Linked DNA regions of Homo sapiens: all the other regions are linked to region 4. Evidence: fine-mapped expression QTL. A gene starts in region 4. Each other region holds a variant in brackets. All regions are shown on one strand. Distances are from middle to middle.

Region 1 (5,150 bases), 35 kb before region 4:
ACAGAACAAGATCCTGTCTCAAAAAAAAAAATATTAAATGAAAAAAGCAAGATGGAGAACACTGTACCTAGCATGCTATCATTAGTATAAACAAAAGACAGGTAGAGTCTGGATAACTGAGGGGAGCAGGAGGTCCCCAGGAAGGCCTGTTTTCCAAGGAAAGAGGAGGAACAGAGAGGACAGTGAGGGTGAGGGCGGCTGCTGTCTCCTAAATCTGTCACCTCCCCTTCTCTGCTTTGGCAGCCATTATGTCCATGGGTCTCTGGCTTGTCTTGTGCAATACTTCCTTGTGTTAAACTCCAAGATATCAATGGGCTGATGAGAGTTCCAGCGTGAGCTACGTGACTGGATGGGTGCTTGGAATAAGAATCCCATGCCCCAGAGAGCAAGACCAGCAAGACAATACTGACTAAGCCACTTTCCCCTGTAAGCCACCCTGGACCCACTTCTCAGTCCTAAGGACTAATGACATAAACTGGATGATGGTCACATAAAAATCTTGGTGAGATGCTGGAAGTCTAAAGTGGTCCCTTTGGGATCATAATGTAAGAAAGTGGCTTCAAGGCATATTTCAGCATAGAGTAACCTTGGCATTGGAAGCACTTTGCAAAAACATAAGAGGCCATGCTAACTCTTTTCATACAACAGAGGCCTGGCAGGTGACATTTCCAGAGGGAGAATGGAAGATTCTGAGAGCACTGCACAAGAGTCTCCCTTAGACACTTCTAGAACATATAGGAGGCTGTGGTAGAAGGGAACTGAAAGTTCAAAGTGTTGATCATGTGCACTGACTAAGCCTTTGTATTTAAAATCAAGATGACATCATAACGGCCTGATTTTCTTTCTTTCTTTCTTTCTTTTTTTTTTTGAGACGGAGTCTCGCTCTGTGGCCCAGACTGGAGTGTAGTGGCGCAACCTCGGCTCACTGCAACCTCTGCCTCATGGGTTCAAGCGGTTCTCCTGCCTCCCCAGGTAGCTGGGATTACAGGCATAAGGCACCGCACCTGGCCAACCTGATTTTCTTAAAAATAAATCTGGGTTTAGATTATTGGTAGAAACATTAAGTGATGTTGTGTCTTCTCAGTGCAACACACCAGTCAATTTTCACGTTGATGGTGATGCTAAGTGTAATCTGATGGTCAACGTGGTGACCTTCAGCTCTCTCTGTGGTAAAGATACGTTTTCCCTTTTGCGATTACTAAACAGCCTGTAGGGTGATACATTCAAACCTTATGAATATCATTTTTCCCAACCCCCTTTATCCTAATAGTTTTACATTCCATTGATGATGCCTGCCTGAATCAATTATTAATAGACTGGTCATAAAATGATGATTTTTCCATTTCTATCATTCCATCTACATTCACAATTTGGCATTCTTTTATGAAGAAGAGCTTTCTTTTCTTTTTTTTTTTTGAGATGGAGTCTCACTTTCTTGCCCAGTCTGGAGTGCAGTGATGCCATCTTGGTTCACTGCAACCTCTGACTTCCAAGTTCAAGCAATTCTCCTGCCTCAGCCTCCCAAGTGGCTGTGATTACAGATGGGCATCAGGACGCCTGGCTAATTTTTGTATTTTTAGTAGAGATGGGTTTTTGCCATGTTGGCCAGGCTGGTCTTGAACTCCTGACCTCAAGTGATCCACCCACCTCAGCCTCCCAAAGTGCTGGGATTACGGGTGTGAGCCACCTCACCTGGCCCTCTTTTCTACCCCCTTTAAAATTTTTGGTGTTGGCCAGGTGCAGTGGCTCACGCCTGTAATCCCAACATTTTGGGAGGCTGAGGTGGGAGGATTGCTTGAGCCCATAAGTTCGAGACCAGCCTGGGCAACATAGCAGGATCTTGTCTCTATTAAGAAAAATAATAATAAAATAAAATACCATTGTTGGTTGTTTTATTTATTTATTGTGGTGGTTGTTGTTTTGAGACAGAGTCTCTCTCTGTTACCCAGGTTGAAGTACAGTGACATGATCATAGCTCACTGTAACCTCGAACTCTTGGGCTCAACTGATACTCCTGCTTTGGCCTCCCAAAGTGCTGCGATTACAGGTGTGAGCACAGGCCAAAATTTTTGGTGTTAATATCAATAGAGACACATGGATTCCTTTTGATTCAATATATAATAATCCATTCCTGCATTATTCATATGAGGCTGAGATTGTCCCAGATTTTGACATGAGGGCCTCCATAAAAATGTAGATTGCAAGCCACCTTCTCCCTCTCCTCCAGTGGGGCCTGGGATTCTGCATATATAACTACCACTAAACTAAAATCTGAAACACCCACTAAATCTGAAAAGTTGAGGAAAAGCCCTTGCCAAGGACCAGCTGAGGAGTTTATGTTAAGAGTGGTTTCACACCCACCAGGCAATACAGCTAGAACTTGACAAGGGCATCCTCTGAGGCAAAGAAGGCCAGAATGCCAGCAAACGAAGATGCATCTTCTGGAGGTGGAAGGGGGTGAGGAAGAAATGGAGAGGTCAGGGCTGGAAAGGAGATGCTTATGGTTTTTTTCCTGCCTTGGGAAGACTATAGCAGACAAGATACCTA[T/C]TAATTCTTGCAACATTACAGCAATGGTTTTTCTGAGTAATAGGAACAGTTTGCTTCTATCCCCAAAGATGGAGAGCTCTTTGCTATTTGGAACCAAGTGTTGATATAGTCAGGAAAAGACCTGGATCAAGGGAGTGTATAAAGCACACAAGTGCACACTGTCACTCTTGCTGAACACTCCTGGTGAAATGTAGAAAAGACATGAAAGAGGGAAAGTAATACATCTACAGCAGCATCAGGAAACTGAAAAGCCAAAAGGCCAGGCATTTGATGAAAGTCCTGGACAATAGAGAGCAGGAGGAAATGTGGGATCAAAAAAGCAGAACTGGGCCAGGCTTGTTGGCTCACACCTGTAATCCTAACAATTTGGGAGGCTGAGGCAGAAGGATTGATTGAGGCCAGAAGTTTAAGACCAGCCTGGGCAACATAGTGAGACCCTGTCTCTACCAAAAAATAATATAAAATAAAAATTTTTTAAAAGTGGGGAATTGAGTCCATGCATTTGGGCCTACGTCCTCTCCAAACCTCACTAAAATAACAGTTAAAAAATAAAAAGGACAAAACTCACAAGGACAAAAAGAACAGACATTGAAACAAGATTGAGCTAGTGATGTCGAGAATAAATATTTCAGATGTTCTAGGCCAGGCATGGTGGCTCAGGCCTGTAATCTCAGTATTTTGGGAGGCTGAGGCAGGTGGATTGCTTGAGCTTGGGAGTTTGAGACCAGCCTGGACAACATGGTGAAACCCCATCTCTACCAAAAAAAAAAAAAAAATTACAAAAATGAGCCAGGCGTGGTGGCACACACCTGTGGTCCCAGCTACTCAGGAGGCTGAGATGGGATGATAGCTTGTGCCTGAGAGGTCAAGGCTGCAGTGAGCCATGAACACGCTGCTGCACTCCAGCCTGGGCAACAGAGTGAGACCCTGTCTCAAAAAACCAAACAAAACACATATTTCAGACATTCTCACCTGACACAGGTATTAAAGAGGAAATGATTCCACACTTGGGAAAATGGCAAAATTATGATTGCCTAATTCCTGAGATCTTAGGGGAACACTTTTTCAAACCCTGTTTCAATAAAAGCAGAACCTGCATCCTGGGAATTTACCCTCATGGGACACACCAGGGGAATGAAATTCCATTGCCACAATGTATGTAATCAATCCATAATGATTGAAGAAACAGACAGTTTTATGGTTCTATAAAGTTACAGTTTAACTTTAGAGACTAATAGGTTCTATGTTTTTATAGCCTGGTATAGTTTAACTTTAGAGACTAATAGGTTCTATGTTTTTATAGCCTGGTTGTGTGGTTAAATACAATGATTTTATTGCCCTGTGGAAAATTAATCAGTCTTGAATTTTACCCAGCAAATTGTCCTTGGAATTCCTTTAACTCTAGCTCTGTTCGTTTGTGCGAGCACACGAGGGTACACACACACACACACACACACACACACACACACACACACACACACAGAGTTTTTCTTTTTTTTTTTTTGAGACGGAGTCTCGCTCTGTCGCCCAGGCTGGAGTGCACTGGCGCAATCTCGGCTCACTGCAAGCTCCGCCTCCCGGGTTCACGCCATTCTCCTGCCTCAGCCTCCCGAGTAGCTGGGACTACAGGCGCCCGCCACCACGTCCGGCTAATTTTTTGTATTTTTAGTAAAGATGGGGTTTCACCGTGTTAGCCAGGATGGTTTCGATCTGACCTCGTGATCTGCCCGCCTCGGCCTCCCAAAGTGCTGAGATTACAGGCTTGAGCCACCATGCCCGGCCTCTTTGACATTTCAGTGTGTGAGTCCATCAGAGCATAACTGTTATTATCTTTCTTCTCTTTTTTTATCTTTGAGATGGAGTCCTGCTCTGTCGCCCAGGCTGGAGTGCAGTGGTGCAATCTCGGCTCACTGCAACCTCTGCCTCCCAGATTCAAACGATTCTCCCGCCTCAGCCTTCCGAGTACCTGGGATTACAGGTGCATGCCACCATGCCAAGCTGATTTTTGTATTTTTAGTAGAGACAAGGTTTCACCATGTTGGCCAGGTTGGTCTCAAACTCCTGACCTCAAGTGATCTGCCCTCCTCAGCCTCCCAAAGTGCTGGGATTACAGGTGTGAGCCACCATACCCTGCCATAACTGTTATTATCTTGAAAGCATGTGTTTTTATGGGTACTGGGACATCTGAACTCTCTGACGGAGGAGTGCGTCCTCGTAGGTGTCTTTATGGTCTTTCCTCAACTATAAACATCTGTAATCATGGGTAGTGACTGGCAAGGAATGTGCCCTGTTAGTCTCCAGATGGAGCTGAACTTTTAATTTGGCTCTTCTAGGCTCCTGCTTCCCTAACACAAAGTCACAAGTTTCTGCATTGAAAGGTCTTACCAGGAACCTAGAACAATGAATTAATTAAAAAATATCCACACAGGCTGGGCACAGTGGCTCACGCCTGTAATCTCAGCACTTTGGGAGGCTTAGGTGGGAGGATTCCTTGAGGCCAGGAGTTTGAGACCAGGCTAGGCAACATAGAGAGACCCCATCTCTACAAAAAATTTAAAACATTAGCTAGGCATTGTGGCATGTACCTGTAGTCCTAGCTACTT
Region 2 (5,150 bases), 690 kb after region 4:
GGGCACCTTATCTCTGTCCACAGCCGAGCCTGGCACTGTGGGCAACCAATCTGGGGTGAGCACCCTTCCTCCAGCCAGGGCGGGGCCGAGAGATTGGGGAAACAGCTGATCCGGCCCTCTAGCTCCAGCTGTGACGTGTCCTCATAGAAGACGGTAGTCTCCCCAGCTGCCGGGCCATCACCCCAGCGTGTGCAGTGCCTGTCACCCTGGCCCAAGTCCTTGTTGCTGCCGCTGATGGTTACGTGAGCTGCTGTCACTGATGGTTACATGAGCTGCTGTCGGGGGTCTTATCCCACTCTGGCCACCTCTGCGGCGTACGTGGGAGTGGGGGGGGCCTGGATGCTTCTCTCTGCTCTGCCCTGGCTGGGCCACTACAGGCAAGTGTCTGCTCCTCTCTGAGGTGTCAGTCTCCTCATCTGTAAACTGAGGGGTTCAGGTCCCTCCAGGGGGGTTATCACACGGTTTGCTGGGTGGGGCATTGCCTCTTCCCAGAGAGTCAGCTTAACACATTTTAGTTTAATATTAAATATTAAAGTTAATATTAAAACTCACATGCTAATGATGGGGTCGAATTAGCAATTTGCTTGGAAAAAACCATCCGGGTTGTTTTGGGGGTCTCCCAAGGCCCCTTGCACCTCAGGCTCTACATGGCCTGGGGTGCGTATCTGAGGACACTGGTGGGTTGAGTCCCCCCAGTTGCTGGAAGCGGGGTAGCAGTCACTACACCCAAAAGAAGGTACAGAGGGCAGACACAAAGGGCAAAGGTTCCACTGCCCTGGGCAGTGCCATGAGGGGCTGGCAGGGTAGGGGTTGACTGGCTCTCAGTCTGAGCTCCCCAGATATCCCACACACACCTCCTCAAAGGAGGGCAAGGCCAAGCCAATCACACCCCACTTTGATCCCTGCCCCTGGGCCAGGCCGTCCTGCGGGATGGGAGGGGATAACATTTCTCAAAGACTGTTCTGCGCAATCTCAAGCGTTCAGGGGACAAATAAGGGTAGAAACTGGCAAATTCACTCCACTACCCTACGGGAGATTCAGAATACATTTAAGAGAATTAAAGGTCCTGACAAGTCCTGTAGAAAAGAAACTGTTTAGTGTTTCCCAGCCTGATCTGACCGTGGAAATCTTTTTTTTAAATGACTGCCAATAATGTCCCACCCACCAGGAAAACACCTGCTGGGAAAAGCTGATGTGGAAAGATGCTGCTCACTGGAAGGCCACGAACATGGTAGCACAGGTGGACTTCCTGGTAGAGGTAGACTTGGTGGGATGGGCACATTTGGACAATCAGTAGAAGAAGAGGGCACTGCAGAGAGAGAGATGCCAGGCTCCCCTCTGAGGCCTCAGTTTCTTCATCTGTAAATCTTTGCCCCCCATGTCTGCCTCCCCACCTTCCTTTGGGTGTAGCAACTGCTACCCCCCTGCCAGTGCCTGGTGGGACCTCAACTGACCAGGGCCCTCAGATGTGCCCATCCCACCTCTACCAGGAAGCTCCCTGCCATCCTTCCTTTTCTCCCTGGTATTTCTGGGCCGAGAGCCAGCCCTGGGTTCTTGTGGCAATGGCTCTGCCTCACTGGGTGAATGAGGAAGGATCTGGAAGGACCTGTCTGGTGCCTGGGATCCCCAGGTAGCTGGGCCTGGGTCTTCTGGATTCTTTTTCTTTTTTTTGAGATGGAGCCTCACTCTGTCACGCAGGCTGGAGTGCAGTGGCGCAATCTCAGCTCATTGCAACCTCCACCTCCTGGGTTCAAGCAATTCTCTTGCCTCAGCCTCCCGAGTAGCTGGGATTACAGGCGCTCACCACCACGCCCTGCTAATTTTTGTGTTTTTAGTAGAGGTGGGGTTTCACCGTGTTGCCCAGGCTGGTCTGGAACTCCTGGCCTCAGGTGATCTGCTCACCTTGGCCTCCCAAAGTGCTAGGATTACAGATGTGAGCCGCTGTGCCCGGCCATCTTCTGGATTCTGAGAGGGCCTTTTCCTTATACCTCCCGGGCATTTCCTCGCTTTGCAAGTTCTCCCCAGCCTTTCATCTCAGAGGTTAACACAGCAGGGTTGTGAACTCTGGACAATAAGCTAAGCCTCTCTGTGCCTCCGTTCCCTCATTTGTACCATGAGGGTAATATTACCTCCCTCCTAGGGTGGCTGGGTTGTTGTGACACTCTAATACCGGTTGGCTGCTCTTACTACTGGATTTGACATGGCTGGAGGAGGGACCCTGGGGAGGGCCCTGTCATCGTGGACATGAGGGAAGAAAGCAAGAGCCAGCAGAAAGCGGCACAAGGCTTAGGTTGGGGTCCTGGTTAGACCAGAGTAGCCTGCAGAGGAGAAGAAAGAGGGTGTGGGTAGCTAGCAGGACTGGCTTCCTGGAGGAATGGCCAGTTAGGTGGGGAGATCTGGACAGAATGAGAAGTCACAGGTTTGAGTCTGAGAGTCAGAGGATCCTGGTGGGTGTGTGTAGGGGACAAGTGGCCTGCGGGCAGGGAGGAGGCATCAGGGACTACCTTCGTTCACTGGGCTGTGGCAGCCCACAGAAGGTTTTGAGCAGGGCAGTGATGTGATCAGAGCAGTGCATTAGTGAGACATGAGGCAGGGTGTGAGTGATGGTGGGCTGTGGGAGGGGGCGGTGCTGTGCCCCTTCATGGACATGAAGCTGGGGGAGGGGCCAAGTTGCGGACGTGACCCTCATTCTCAGACTCTCAGGGCAGTCAGTGAGGCTACCCTGCCTCGCCTCTGCCACACCTCCTTTCCTCTGTGGTGTGAGGCTCTTTGTTCAGCAGCTCAGGTGGGGGAGATGGGCTGTGGTATTTTTTATTTTTTATTTTTTTTGAGTTGGAGTCTCGCTCTGTCGCCCAGGCTGGAGTGCAGCGGCGCGATCTCGGCTCACTGCAACCTCCGCCTCCCGGGTTCACGCCATTCTCCTGCCTCAGCCTCCCGAGTAGCTGGGACTACAGGCGCCCGCCACCACGCCCGGCTAATTTTTTGTATTTTTAGTAGAGATGGTGTTTCACCTTGTTAGCCAGGATGGTCTCGATCTCCTGACCTCGTGATCCGCCCGCCTTGGCCTCCCAAAGTGCTGGGAT[G/T]ACAGGTGTGAGCCACAGCGCCGGTCGGGGTGTGGTATTTTAAATACCCAGGAGGAGCTACGGTGGTGCGTGGGGCAACATTGGCCCTCCGACCTGACCCGAAGGCCCTGGTGGGGCATGCTCAGTGGATTTTCCTACCCAGCCCTAGCTCCCCTCTCTTGTCCTCCTTTGCCCCTTTGTCTTTCTTCCTCAAGCATGTAGGAGCCCAGTGCTCTCTAAATCTGGGGCTGGGAGGTTGGAGGATGAGGAAAAGCATCTGGATTCAGGTGGAGCATGGTGGCCTAGCTGGGGGCATTGCAGCACCCCTTAGTCCAGATTCCCTTCTTCTCCACCTGCTTCTTGAGGGACGGCATTAAGGAAGGTGTGACTTAAAGTCAGAAGAACAAGAACTTGGAAGTGAGTTGCAATTTATTAGAAAACAGAACAAAGAATCTAGCCACCCCTGCCAACTCTGTGCTAGGCCCTGGCAGACACATGGGTCCTGTCTTCCCCATGCAGCCCCGGGGGCCTGAGTGAGGCATGATGGGTCTCACTCAGTTTCTGGGACATCTGTCTCGATGCCCTTTCGTCAACCCCATGGCTCTCTCAGAGCCTGTCCTCATACCTTCAACTGCTCCCCACCCATAACCAGATCTCCGGGACAGCCCAGCTCAGCCAGCGCACCTCTGATCCTGGCGGGTGGTGGTGATACTCCTTGCAGGCTGAGTTGGCTAGATTTTAGGATGACTCAAGCAGGAGACACCCAGCACCACCAAGGGGCATATATTCTTAGGAAATATTTTTAAATGATGCCTTTAAATGTTAAACACACAGGGACCTTTTACTCTCTCTTATTTTGGAAAATTAAAAAAAAAAAATCATACACAATGCAAAACCTTGAGAGTTAATCTGAAAAGGTTTGGAGTTTAAAAAGTAACTCAAGGAAAGATAATGAACTTGACTTCTTCATTAGATTTTTTTTTGTTTTTGAGACAGAGTTTCACTCTTGGAGTGCAATGGCGCGATCTTGGCTCACTGCAACCTCTGCCCCCTGGGTTCAAGCGATTCTCCTGCCTTAGCCTCCCAAGTAGCTAGGATTACAGGTGCCTGCCACCACGCCCGGCTAATTTTGGTATTTTTAGTGGAGACGGGGTTTCACTATGTTGGCCAGGCTGGTCTCAAACTCCTGACTTCAAGTGATCCGCCCACTTCGACCTCCCAAAGTGCTGAGATTACAGGTGTGAGCCACTGCGCCCAGCTGCTTCTTCATTAGATTTTAAAAAGAGCAAGGCCTGAGGCTTAATATATTACTAAGTAAAATTTAGAGGCAGGCTGATAGCAGGCTGTGGAACCTCTCTGAATCTCAGTTGCCTCCTCTGTACTATGGGGGTATTGATGTGAGGATTGAGGTATTCCACACAAAATGCTTGGCACTGCACTCTGTATCTCAGGTGTATTCAGCTAAAAATAGAGTGATAACAATGATGATAGGATTTTAAGAACAGACCTTTCTTGATGCTTCAAAAGCTAGTGAGTTATTCTCTCTTTGAACTCCACAAAAGGGCCTAAAGAATATGTTTATGTCCAAACTCAGCGTCTCCACTTCATAGGGGTCTTATGGATGAAATCATGGGCGCATGGCCCCTGTGTGCATTCTGAAATGAACCCCAGTGGCTTTTGAGACCTGGTTCCAGCCCTCGCGTGGGTGGGGGACTGTGCTTCATGGTTGAATTCTATGGAAAGTGCTTTATTGGTTAATCCTGTGGTCTTCTTAGGAGAGCACAGTTAATGTACCCTGAAGTCACCAGGAGGGGAAGGTCTCGGGCCAGTGATCGAGGACCGTCTAGAGGCAGTTATGAGTTACTTGCTTTTTGAATTTTCTTTTGTGCTGGCCAATGCAATTAGAACTTGTCCCTGGCCCTATTTATGGAGGAGGAGATCGAGGGTGAAGGACTGAGGCCTGGCTAGTTTAGTGCCTGGCAAGCCTAATCCAGCTGCATGGGGCAGGGAGACCAGGGTGACCTGCAGGGACCCCACTAAGCGCCCAGGCCAGAAAGCAGGTAGCTTCCCGGTGGCAGCCCCAGGCTT
Region 3 (5,150 bases), 150 kb after region 4:
AATTGCTAGGAGAAAATTAGGGAAAGAAAGCACAGAGCAGTATTGAGGTGGGAGGTTGGGAGCAGACAGATGGTGAGTGTTCGTTTGCATGGCAGGAATGAGTGGCTGAATGGCATTAACTGGCCATGGGGCTCTGACCAGAGCTTGGGTATACAGTTTCTGTGCCAGCACAAACCAGCATTAGGTGCGTGGTGTGTGAGGCCGGGTGATGGTCATATGGATCTGGTCCAGAGCTGTGGTCTTGACATAGAGTTCCATGTATGAACTTTGGTGGTGGTGGTGGTTTTGTTTCGTTTTTTAAGAAAAAAGGAAGAGTTGTTTTATGTCACAGCCAAACTCAAGGAGGTGACAGCACAAGACCCAGGTTAGAATGTACTTAGCCAGGGCTCACGGAATCTTCCATCCTTTGCAAAGCCAAGAAGAGTAGAGGCCTCAAGGAGAATAGAGGAGCACATGGGCTCCTTCTGGGCTGAGCTCTCACCCTTGGTGGGGCCGCTGGTCCCAGGGGGTCGTTGGGAGCCTGCGGAGATTCTGCCCAGTACATACATACCTTGCGTTTTCTCGGAGCCTGACAGGTGCTGCCTTGAAGCGGAAAGACTTCACCTCACAGGGTGGCCAGCTGTCCTTTCTCTTCCTCTCCCTGTCTTGTGTGCTCATGATAATGGATAGATAGACATCTCCATGGTAGAAATAATGCAGCCCTTTCTGCAGTCCATGGTTCCACAGCATATGGTCAGTAGACTTAGATGAGTGCTACATAAAGTGTAATTAGTTCTGCACCACGGTGTCTTACCTTCTGAAAAGGAAACTCTGGTATTGACTTAGAAATGCCAGTTTTATCCTTCCGACCAGAACGCAAGTCCTGAATGAGGCCAGAGGCCAATGAAAGGTCCTTTCTTCTCTCTTTTCAAATCTGCTGTATTAAACAGTGACTTTTCCTAGTCATTCAGTATTCATTCATTCATCCATTTATTCAAGTTTTTGAGTACCTTCTTTGTGGATGGCACATAGTAGATGCAAAAATACAATCATTTTTAAAATGGAAAGCATTTGTTATGTGGTAGTGGAATATAAGAAATGCCATGCTTCCATATTTTTATGGTAATCTTGGACTCAGGTTCTACCCACCATACTTAATTAGAAATTCATTCTCAGCCTCTGTTTTGGCAGAGACCCATTCTCTTCCCTCAGGAACATACAGAAACCTCAGGGCTGAACTGAGCTCAGAGGTTGGGGAAGGTCCCCTGGTCTGATCTTCAGTCGCTGACTGCTGCGCCCGATTCCCTGGCCCCTCACTCTTGAGGGCAGCATCCTCACTCTTGTGTGGCACAGGCTTGGACATAGAATGACACTTAAGCACCAGAGCCTCCCTAGCCTGCCACAAGGACACCCTACATTCCCAGGCACTTTCAGAATGCAAAACCTCCCCTCCATTCCCTCCCTTTCCCTGCCTCCAGGTTTGGGCCCTGCCTCTCCTTTTGTTTCAAAGCACTGTCCTCTCTTCCTCTACCCTTATCCTTCCCCATCTCCCTCCCACTCCCCAAAAGAGCCAAACTAATTATGGGGATTTAACCTTCCAATTAAAGGCGAGGATTTTTTTTTTTCAATGCAGTTCCTGAAATGCTAAAGAAATTGTCCAGGGAAAGGAGCACAGGAGGAGTTTTGTTTTGTTTTGTTTTGTTTTGTTTTGTTTTGTTTTGTTTTGAGACAGTCTCGCTCTGTCACCCAGGCTGGAGTGCAGTGGTGCGATCTTGGCTTACCGCAACCTCTCCACCTCCTGGGTTTGAGCAATTCTTGTGCCTCAGCCCCCCAAGTAGCTGGGATCACAGGTGCACACCACCACGCCAGCTAATTTTTGTATTTTTAGTAGAAATGGGGTTTTGCCATGTTGGCCAGGCTGGTTTCGACCTCCTGGCCTCAAGTGATCCACCCACCTCAGCCTCCCAAAGTACTGGGATTAGGCGTGAGCCACTGCATCCAGCCTGATGTTTAAATAATTTCTTACTTCAGAGTTTCCTGAAGTGTGGCCTATGGAGACTAGCATCAGAATCACTGGAGGAGCTTAAAGATATAGAGACAGGGATAGGGCCTGAGATTCTGACTTTGTTGTAAGCTATCCAGAGTTTGAGAGCCATGGCCTAGTTCTTGGAATACAAAAGTGTATCTGCTCTTGTATGGGAGGTAGGAAGTTACCTTTTCATTCATTCTTCTACAACAGTAATTTAAAAGTTAGGAATTGGT[G/A]TCTTCATAGACAGAAGAATGCAGGAATCCTCTTCTCAGGATGTCTGTCTTTACACAGCCATGGTATATGGTAGACCAAGTTTGTCCAACCCATGGCCCGCGGGCTACATGCAGCCCAGGACGGCTTTGAATGCAGCCCAACACAATTCATAAACTTTCTTAAAACATGATTTTTTTATTTTATTTTTTTTTAAGCTCATCAGCACTATCGTTAGTGTTAGTGTTAGTGTATTTTATGTGTGGCCAAAGACAATTCTTCCAGTGTGGCCTAGGGAAGCCAAAAGATTGGACACCCCTATATAGACCATAATTATCACACGCCCTGAGAGGGAAGCAGATCAATGGTGAGGGAGCGTAGAGGAGAGCCTGCCAGAGTTTCCAGTGGGGCCGGGGATGCTTAAAAACGGAGGCAGTGATGTGCTGAGCCAGAAAGGACAGGGAGGACCCCCATGCACACAGGCAGGGAGGCTCTCTGGTGACATCTGCCGTCAGGTACAGTAGTACAGTAGTAGAGTGAGCGGAAGCACTTTTGGCTGAAGTGCAACATTAGTGATTGAGGAAGTGCAGGTCCGTAATATCTTACCCCAAACCCTGGGGCTCACTGAGCTTCCGAGTTCAGAGTTTTTCAGAATTGATGAACACATCCAGAAGGCCCATGGGGCAGATACACCTTAGACATATTGATGAAAGTGGAGTTGGAATTGGGTTGTGGAAGTCGTAGGACGTGAATTCTAGGTTTCTTGGAGTGTGGAGTATGGTGTCTACTGTTTGGAAACAGAGAAGAATGACATTATGAGTTTTATTTATAAAATAAGAATTTCTTCTTTGTATTAAAATAGATTTTTATATAGGAAATTTTCATTACCTTCAGTATCAGAAAGGCCCCCAAATCTATTTCACCGTTTCCATAATAAATTGTGAAAGAAAGATTTGATTGGGATATTGTCTTTAAAAATGAAACCAAAAAGTATGGGAAAATACTTTAATTTTAGAGTTAACAACATTTATAGTTACAATCATGAAGCAGGTATGGTGCTGCTTCATGAGCCAAGTTCATAAAAGAAAAAAAAATCAGATCTTACTGAGTTCTGTGAGACAGATCATTATTTTTCTTATTAACATATTCATTTATTCAGCAAATGTTTATTAAGTGCCAATTAATGTATCAGTGGCTGCTTTAGGCACTGGAGATATATGGTCAGTGGGATAAGGGGAAGTCTCTGTCTTCAATCCTCACAGATCTTATTTTCCATAAGTAAGTGTACAAATACGGGCTATGAATTAAATAGAGCAAGATAAAGAGATGGGGGTGTGGCTTCAGTTGTGCACATGGTGCCCAGAAATCTGATAGCTCCATCATGGAGTCCTTCACTTGAGACTTCACAGCAGGATGTAAAAAGCAACAGCCAGGAAACTCCTTAGTTTTCCCAAAGTCCTCCCTTAATCTCGTTTAGAGAATTATGAAACACTTCCTATGGCTTCATCCTTTATCCCTTCTTCAGTTGATAACTGAAGGGCTAAATCTGCCAAGTCTTCCTTTGCCAATGGTTTTGTGCGAGCAGTTCTCCAACAGCGCTTCCACTAAAATCTTGTCTTTTACAAGATGGATTTTACAGTTGGTTGGCATTGTATGACAGTCTGTGAGTAGGGACAGCCCAATGTATGTTTGTTAATCAAGTTTATGCCTTTTACATTGAGTAATTTTTAATTACCTCGTGTAATTTTTAACAGCACTCTCCTTCATCTTCAGAAGTGTTCAGTTTGAACAATAAGTTTGTCATCTTGTCAGTCAAAGGTTGACCAACAAAGACTGACCGCAGTGGGCGGGGTATTCAGCAGGGTTAGATGTTTCTAAGTGGTCAGTGCTTTCATAAACATTTTCACGTTATGACCTTTGCCTCCTCACACAATCTTGTAACTATGGAGACTTAGATGATAAAGATTCAACTAAGAGGATCCCTTTAAAGTCTTGGGTACCAGCCATACCAAAAGCTGTTTTATATGAGGTTCTTTATGATTATAATTTGGACATGAACATGGAGTGGTCCTGCTTCAGCAAGAAATCAGGCTAATAACCATTAGCATCCAGTGTGGGTAAAGGCGGGGGCTGCCCTGAGGAGTGTTGTGTGGCACAGGGCGCATGAACACCAGATAAGTCCTCAGACAGTGCCCTTAGCATCCAGTGGTTTTTGGCATCTAGCAGGGAGTAAAAGTATCTCATAGATTCTTTAAGTGTAAACACCGAGGACACACTTAACGTTTTAAAAGATTGAAATCCAGACAGGGCTGGGGTGGACTCTAATCTGTTTCCTTCTCTCTCTTTATGTGTTATAACTTGGATTCTTCATTCCCCAAAATGACCTTGTTTATATAATTCTCCAGTCTTATCTAAAACTTTTATGTGAGGACCATGGCTCATATTCCGCAGCTTTCCTTCTCTCAAGGAGCTAGGACTGGTTATTGTGATAAATGAAGGAAAAGAAAAGAAAGTGGGTTTCTGTTTATTGTATGAAATTGATGTAACTTTGTATTTCTGATTATAAATGGTAGCCAGAGGGAGGACACAAAAACTTCAAATTCCAAGCCCCATAATATATTATGGCCTGAATAGTGTTGGAATTTATTTATTTATGGAATGTCAAAAAGAAAATAGGGCCATCAAAAAAGCAAACAGTGGAAGTCTATTTTCTGGCCCCTGTGAGTCTGGCTCTAAAAACAGTGCAAGGGGTTGGGGTTTGGTGGGACTAGGAAAGCAGATGCTCGTCATTTACCTTCCTGTGTTTGTCATGAGAATTGTCTGTACTGGGATTGTCACCTTGGTCAGTAATTGTTTCGTTTATAGTACCATTGTCTCTCCAAAGAGGGCTGAGTTCCCTAAAAAAAAGCAGGCAGCGCACCACAACATCTGG
Region 4 (5,150 bases):
CACCACATCTGACTAATTTTTTAAAAAATTTTTTGTAGAGACAAGGTCTCACTATGTTGTCCAGGCTGGTCTCAAACTCCTGGCCTCAGGTGATCCTCCCACCTTGGCCTCCCAAAGCACTGGGATTACAGGCATGAGCCACTGCACCCAGCGTGTTTGTTTTTTAAGGACAAAATAATTTGAGCATGTTTGAAAGCTAAGGAAAAAGAACCAGAGAAGAGAGTAGATTAAGGAAGTAAGAAAGAATGTTTGCTGCAGCAAGATTCTAAGGCTTCAGAGTAGCAATATCTAGTCTAGGGATTGCTGTTCTTCAGATGCACACCTTTTCTGTTATCCCTGAATGTTGGTAAAATCATGTGAAACTTCACAGTGTGGGTTCAGTCTTGCTGTGGGGAGGGAAGGGAAGGAAAGGGCTGGTTCACTTCTGGCCTGGAAGATTAGGGGGAGCAATGTCTCCTACAGCTAGGGCATGGCCTATGCCAGCCTCCCCATCTGATGGGGTCCTGCCAGAGGGTAGGGCCATGTCTTCAATTTCAAAATCCTACATGGCAAAAACATAACCTGCAAACCAGAATGTCAGTGCTAGGGCCTAGGCCGAACAATAGTTTTCCTGTAGGAATGGGGAGTATGTGTGGATGTAGAGCTGGGGGTAAGGCTTTTGTGCAATTCAGCTTCACCAGGCTTGAAGAAGATGCAGTGAGGACAGTCAGGACCTGAGTATGAGAGTGGGACCTGGGTATGAGTGTGGAAATCCATCTTAGAACCTTAAAATTCCATACTCTGAGGTAAAGCTGAGAGGCTCCACAGGTCTATGAGGGTTTTTCTTTGTTTCCCAGGGACTGTAAGGTGCCCAGATTCTGAGGTAGGTGCCATAGGAATATTCCTCATAGCACAAGCATTATGTCGGACAATGTTCTGCTTATCTATTACTGAGTAACAAACCTCTCTAAAACTTAGAGGCTTAAAATAACATAAATCATAATTTATGAAAAATTATAAATAATTCATCACTTAAGGGTTAAATGATAAATGAGTTATTTCTTAGGATTTTGGATAAGTCACAGTTAGGAAAGACCTGTTACTGTTGTAGGTAACATGGAACAGCCCAGACGGTTGGAATAACCCAACCCAGATAGCTTCTTCACTCAATGACTGATCCCTTAGCTAGGATGGCTCCACCAGCTGAGCGGCCCAGCTCTCCCTCTCCAAGTCCAAGTGGTCTCTGCACATGGTTTCTCTCCAGCAAGGTGGCTAACGGGGTGCAGCTCATGACCACCAACAGCTCAAAATCAAGGCTGCCAGGTCTTTTTTTTTTTTTGAGACAGAGTCTCGCTCTGTCCCCCAGGCTGGAGTGCAGTGGCGCGATCACGACTCTCTGCAACCTCTGCCTCCTGGATTCAAGCGACTCTCCTGAGTAGCTGGGATTACAGGTGTGTGCCACCACGCCCGGCTAATTTTTGTATTTTTTGTAGAGACAGGGTTTCACCACGTCGATCAGGGTGGTCTCGAACTTCTGACCTCGTGATCTGCCCGCCTCGGCCTCCCAAGGTGCTGGGATTACAGACGTGAGCCACCGTGCCCGGCCAAGGCTGCCAGGTCTTTTTTAAGCTCAGAGCTAGAAACAAGACATTGCTACTCCTACCAACTTCTTCTATTGGTGAAATTGAGTCATGGTTTCTCATGGTCTCAATCATGACCCAGCCCAGATTCCAGGGTCAAGGACCATAAAAGGCTACATTGATGGAAGACATGTCTCATTGAGGGACACCAGAGTAACAACTACCAGACAAGAAGGGGCAGGTCTGTGTGAGCGCCATTTCCTAATTCTATATTGCCCACTCTTCAGAGAAGATGGTTGGAGGGCAAATTGTGGGGAGCAAGGTAACTCCAAACTTTTACAGAATTAAAGGTAGGGGGTCTGGTCAGCTACAGTCCATCTGTTATCAAGAGGCCTGGCTGTGTGTCTTCATTCAGTTTATTAGGCATTTACTGAGCACAGCCTACATGCCAGGTTCTTCATTTTTTGACACAGGGTCTTGTGTTGCCCAGGCTGGAGTGCAGTGCTGCGACTGCGGCTCACTGCAGCCTTGACCTCTCCAGACTCAAGCGATCCTCCTGCCTCAGCCTCTGGAGTAGCTGGGGATACAGGCGCGCACCACCATGCTCGGCTAATTTTTGTATTTTTAGTAGAGACAGTGTCTCACCCTGTTGGCCAGGCTGGTCTCGGATCCCAGAGATCAAGTGATCCGCCTGCCTCAGTTTCCCAAAGTGCTGGGATTACAGGCGTAAGCCTCCGCGCCCGGCCTATGCCAGGTTCTACATGTGTTCTTTCTTGACTCTTGTGTTACAGAGGCTCGAATGAAGCCTGGCTTCTACAGTACCGCACCCAGCACCTCGCTGCGATGCAGCCTCCTGTACCCTTTCCGTCCGGCAGCTGGAGTTAGGGCAGAGTGCCGGGTCTCTAGGAGGGCAACACTCAACGCAGTCGGCTCCTAGGCATCCAGTGGGGCTGCAACCCCGCCGCCGGGGACGAAAGGCGAAGGGGGAAAACTAGAGCTTTCGCCGGCCGGGACAGCGCAGCCGGGTTTCAGCTCGTTCTACGGTCCACGTCAGAAGATCGCCTCCGGCGCCGCGGACGCCGGAGACCACTGTCTGCGCCCCCGCACGCACGCACCCACGTACTCGCGCACGCGCGCGCCGGCCCCGCCCACCGCCCCGCTGTGGCCCCTTTGGACCGCACGAGCCACCGTCCGCACAGCCCCGCCCCGCACGGCCAGGCGAAGCGGAGCCGGCCGTGCGGTGTGTGTGTATGTGTTCGCGGGGCGCCGTCTCAGCCCCGGGAAGATGGTGGCTGCAGCGGCGGCAACTGAGGCAAGGCTGAGGAGGAGGACGGCGGCGACGGCAGCGCTCGCGGGCAGGAGCGGCGGGCCGCACTGGGACTGGGACGTGACCAGGGCTGGGAGGCCGGGGCTGGGGGCCGGGCTGCGCCTCCCGCGGCTGCTGTCTCCACCGCTGCGGCCACGGCTGCTGCTGCTGCTGTTGTTGCTCTCGCCGCCGCTGCTGCTGCTGCTGCTGCCCTGTGAGGCCGAGGCCGCGGCGGCGGCGGCGGCGGTGTCGGGCTCAGCCGCAGCCGAGGCCAAGGAATGTGACCGGCCCTGTGTCAACGGCGGTCGCTGCAACCCTGGCACCGGCCAGTGCGTCTGCCCCGCCGGCTGGGTGGGCGAGCAATGCCAGCACTGCGGGGGCCGCTTCAGGTGAGTGGCGGGTGGTGTCGGAGGGTCGGGTCCAACCAGAGGCTGGGGCTGAGGGGCGTTCGAGACGGCTCCAGGTCAGAGGGAGATGCTGGACAGAAAGTGGAGAGGGTAGGGCCGCCCTATGGGGTTTGAGGGCCATTTGCTTCCGGGGAGATCATCGTCTCTGGCCTGGGGTCTTTCTCTGTTGGAAGGTGAAAAGGTGTGGGGCAAGGGTGGGGGCACCCCGACGGTATTTGGGTGCTTAGGTTAGTTAGATGGGAAGAATGCTGAGGGACCCAAAGAGCATCAAAGCCGATCGCTCTAAAACTCGGCGTGTTTCAGCTAAACGAGGTATCCAAGGAAAGGTGGTCGAGCCAGGTTTGCTTGAACACTTCCTTTTAACATCCACATGTGCCCTAGGACCCGATGAGTTCCCCGATGCACTGGAGATGTGGGGTGCTCTGAAGAAACAGGGCCCTGGAAATGCTTTGTTGGCTGGAGATAAAAGGGAAAGGGTAGCATTGTAAGATATTAGGGATAGAAGGACCAGTGGTCCTTCTAAAGGAAAGTGAGGAAACTAGCCTTTTGGCAAAAGCTCCCTGGAGGTGGCAAATTGGAATAGGGTCTGTGGTGAAGAGGGAATGGAAGGAGATTCCTATTTGCCTTGGTTTCTGGACAATATGAAGTTCTGAATTGGCTTAGTTTGGGGCAGTTCCTCTTGGAGAAATCAATAAATTAATTAGCAGTTATCGTTATTTGCTTCAGTTGTGCAATGATTTTCCAGATAATACAGACAGATTAGCCAGACTTTGGCCTTGTCCACAGGGAGTTTGGAATATAGCAAGAGAAAGATAATGTGCGCACATAACCCTAGTCATAAGGGTTACAGAGTCATTCACGCCTTTGACAGGTATTTAGCTTACTGAACACATGTCTGATGTGGGGGAGTGGGGAAATGTGAACAAGACAGACAGGGCCTCTGCTCTCATTGACCTTAACATTCTAGTGGGAGCAACAGGCACTTAACAAGTAAATAAATGAGAGAAATAAACATGGTAATTTCAGGTAATGGTAAATGCTATCAAGAAAATAAAAACAGCGTGGTCTGATAGAGAATTATAACCGGTGGTGACTCTTGGAGAGGGTTCTCATTTGAAATGACATTTGATCTGAGACCTGAATGAGGCAACAGGGAACTTGTGGGAATTCAGGGATGGAGAGGTTGTGGCTAGCTGGAGGGATGCAAGGAGGACTTTGAGGAGGCGGTAACATTGGATTTGAGCATGTAAGGTTAAGTAGGATTTGGAAATGTGGAGCTGGAAAAAAATTACAGATGGAAAGAAGGGTGCAAACAAAGTTGTGGAGGCTGGAAAGTAAAGTTTTGCTGCTGCCTATGTGGAAGAGAGTTGTGAGAGAGGAGTTTGGAATAGCAAAATTGTAGACTTAGGTAATATTAGGTCTTCTGAGGAACTCAGAGAACGTTGAGCAGATGAGCTCTTTAGTTTTATGGATGGAGAAACCAAGTTACTTCAGGACCACTGATGCAGTGAAGCTGCTTTTGTAACTTAGGGTGTTCTGATTTATGAATTCCATTAACCTACATGTATTTGTTGAGGGCTCCTATGTTTTAGGTTGTGAGATACAGTGGTATACAAGACAGGCACAGTCCTGCTCTTACGGAGCTCACATTTCAGCTTGGGAGTAAAAAAATCCAACAAAAATTTTATTGTAATTTTGTTTAAGGCTGTGGAGGTAAAGAGCAGGAGACAAACAGAGGACTTGACTTAGTCTAGGGGTAAGGTAAGTCACTGAGGAAGCGATGTGAAGTCTGAGGGGTGAGATGGTACTACCTGCGTGAGGGGTGGGGTGCTGAGGGGCCAGCAGGTACAGAGGCTTGGGGTTGAAGCGGATGGAAGG

Alleles and levels. Alleles are on the strand shown, and positions count from the first base shown. SD is a standard deviation of normalised expression in the study named. Not every link is listed here.
As copies of T replace G in region 2, the expression in cerebellar hemisphere of the gene that starts at base 2,755 in region 4 goes up (large effect, 1.1 SD a copy in GTEx).

The links.
Region 1: its variant is fine-mapped to the expression of ATRN in whole blood (TOPMed, PIP above 0.99).
Region 2: its variant is fine-mapped to the expression of ATRN in cerebellar hemisphere (GTEx, PIP above 0.99).
Region 3: its variant is fine-mapped to the expression of ATRN in whole blood (INTERVAL, PIP above 0.99).

What each region holds. Positions count from the first base shown.
Region 1 is chr20:3,433,651-3,438,800 of GRCh38, forward strand. No RefSeq gene overlaps it. Among named protein-coding and RNA genes, the nearest start is that of DNAAF9, 29 kb to the left of the region's middle. The variant T/C (reference allele first, on the strand shown) is at 2,548.
Region 2 is chr20:4,155,090-4,160,239 of GRCh38, forward strand. All of the region lies in intron 1 of SMOX (spermine oxidase), which reads left to right. LOC124904861 (a long non-coding RNA gene) reads right to left here. Exons shown (of 2, transcript XR_007067504.1): 2 at 3,474-5,150. Among named protein-coding and RNA genes, the nearest start is that of SMOX, 8.8 kb to the left of the region's middle. RefSeq lists enhancers at 850-1,019, 2,548-3,048 and a cis regulatory region at 935. The variant G/T (reference allele first, on the strand shown) is at 3,084.
Region 3 is chr20:3,618,561-3,623,710 of GRCh38, forward strand. All of the region lies in intron 24 of ATRN (attractin), which reads left to right. Among named protein-coding and RNA genes, the nearest start is that of GFRA4, 42 kb to the right of the region's middle. RefSeq lists a silencer at 2,434-2,633. The variant G/A (reference allele first, on the strand shown) is at 2,242.
Region 4 is chr20:3,468,264-3,473,413 of GRCh38, forward strand. ATRN (attractin) reads left to right here and starts at 2,755. Exons shown (of 29, transcript NM_139321.3): 1 at 2,755-3,254. The coding sequence starts at 2,845. RefSeq lists an enhancer at 2,342-2,481 and a silencer at 2,582-3,141.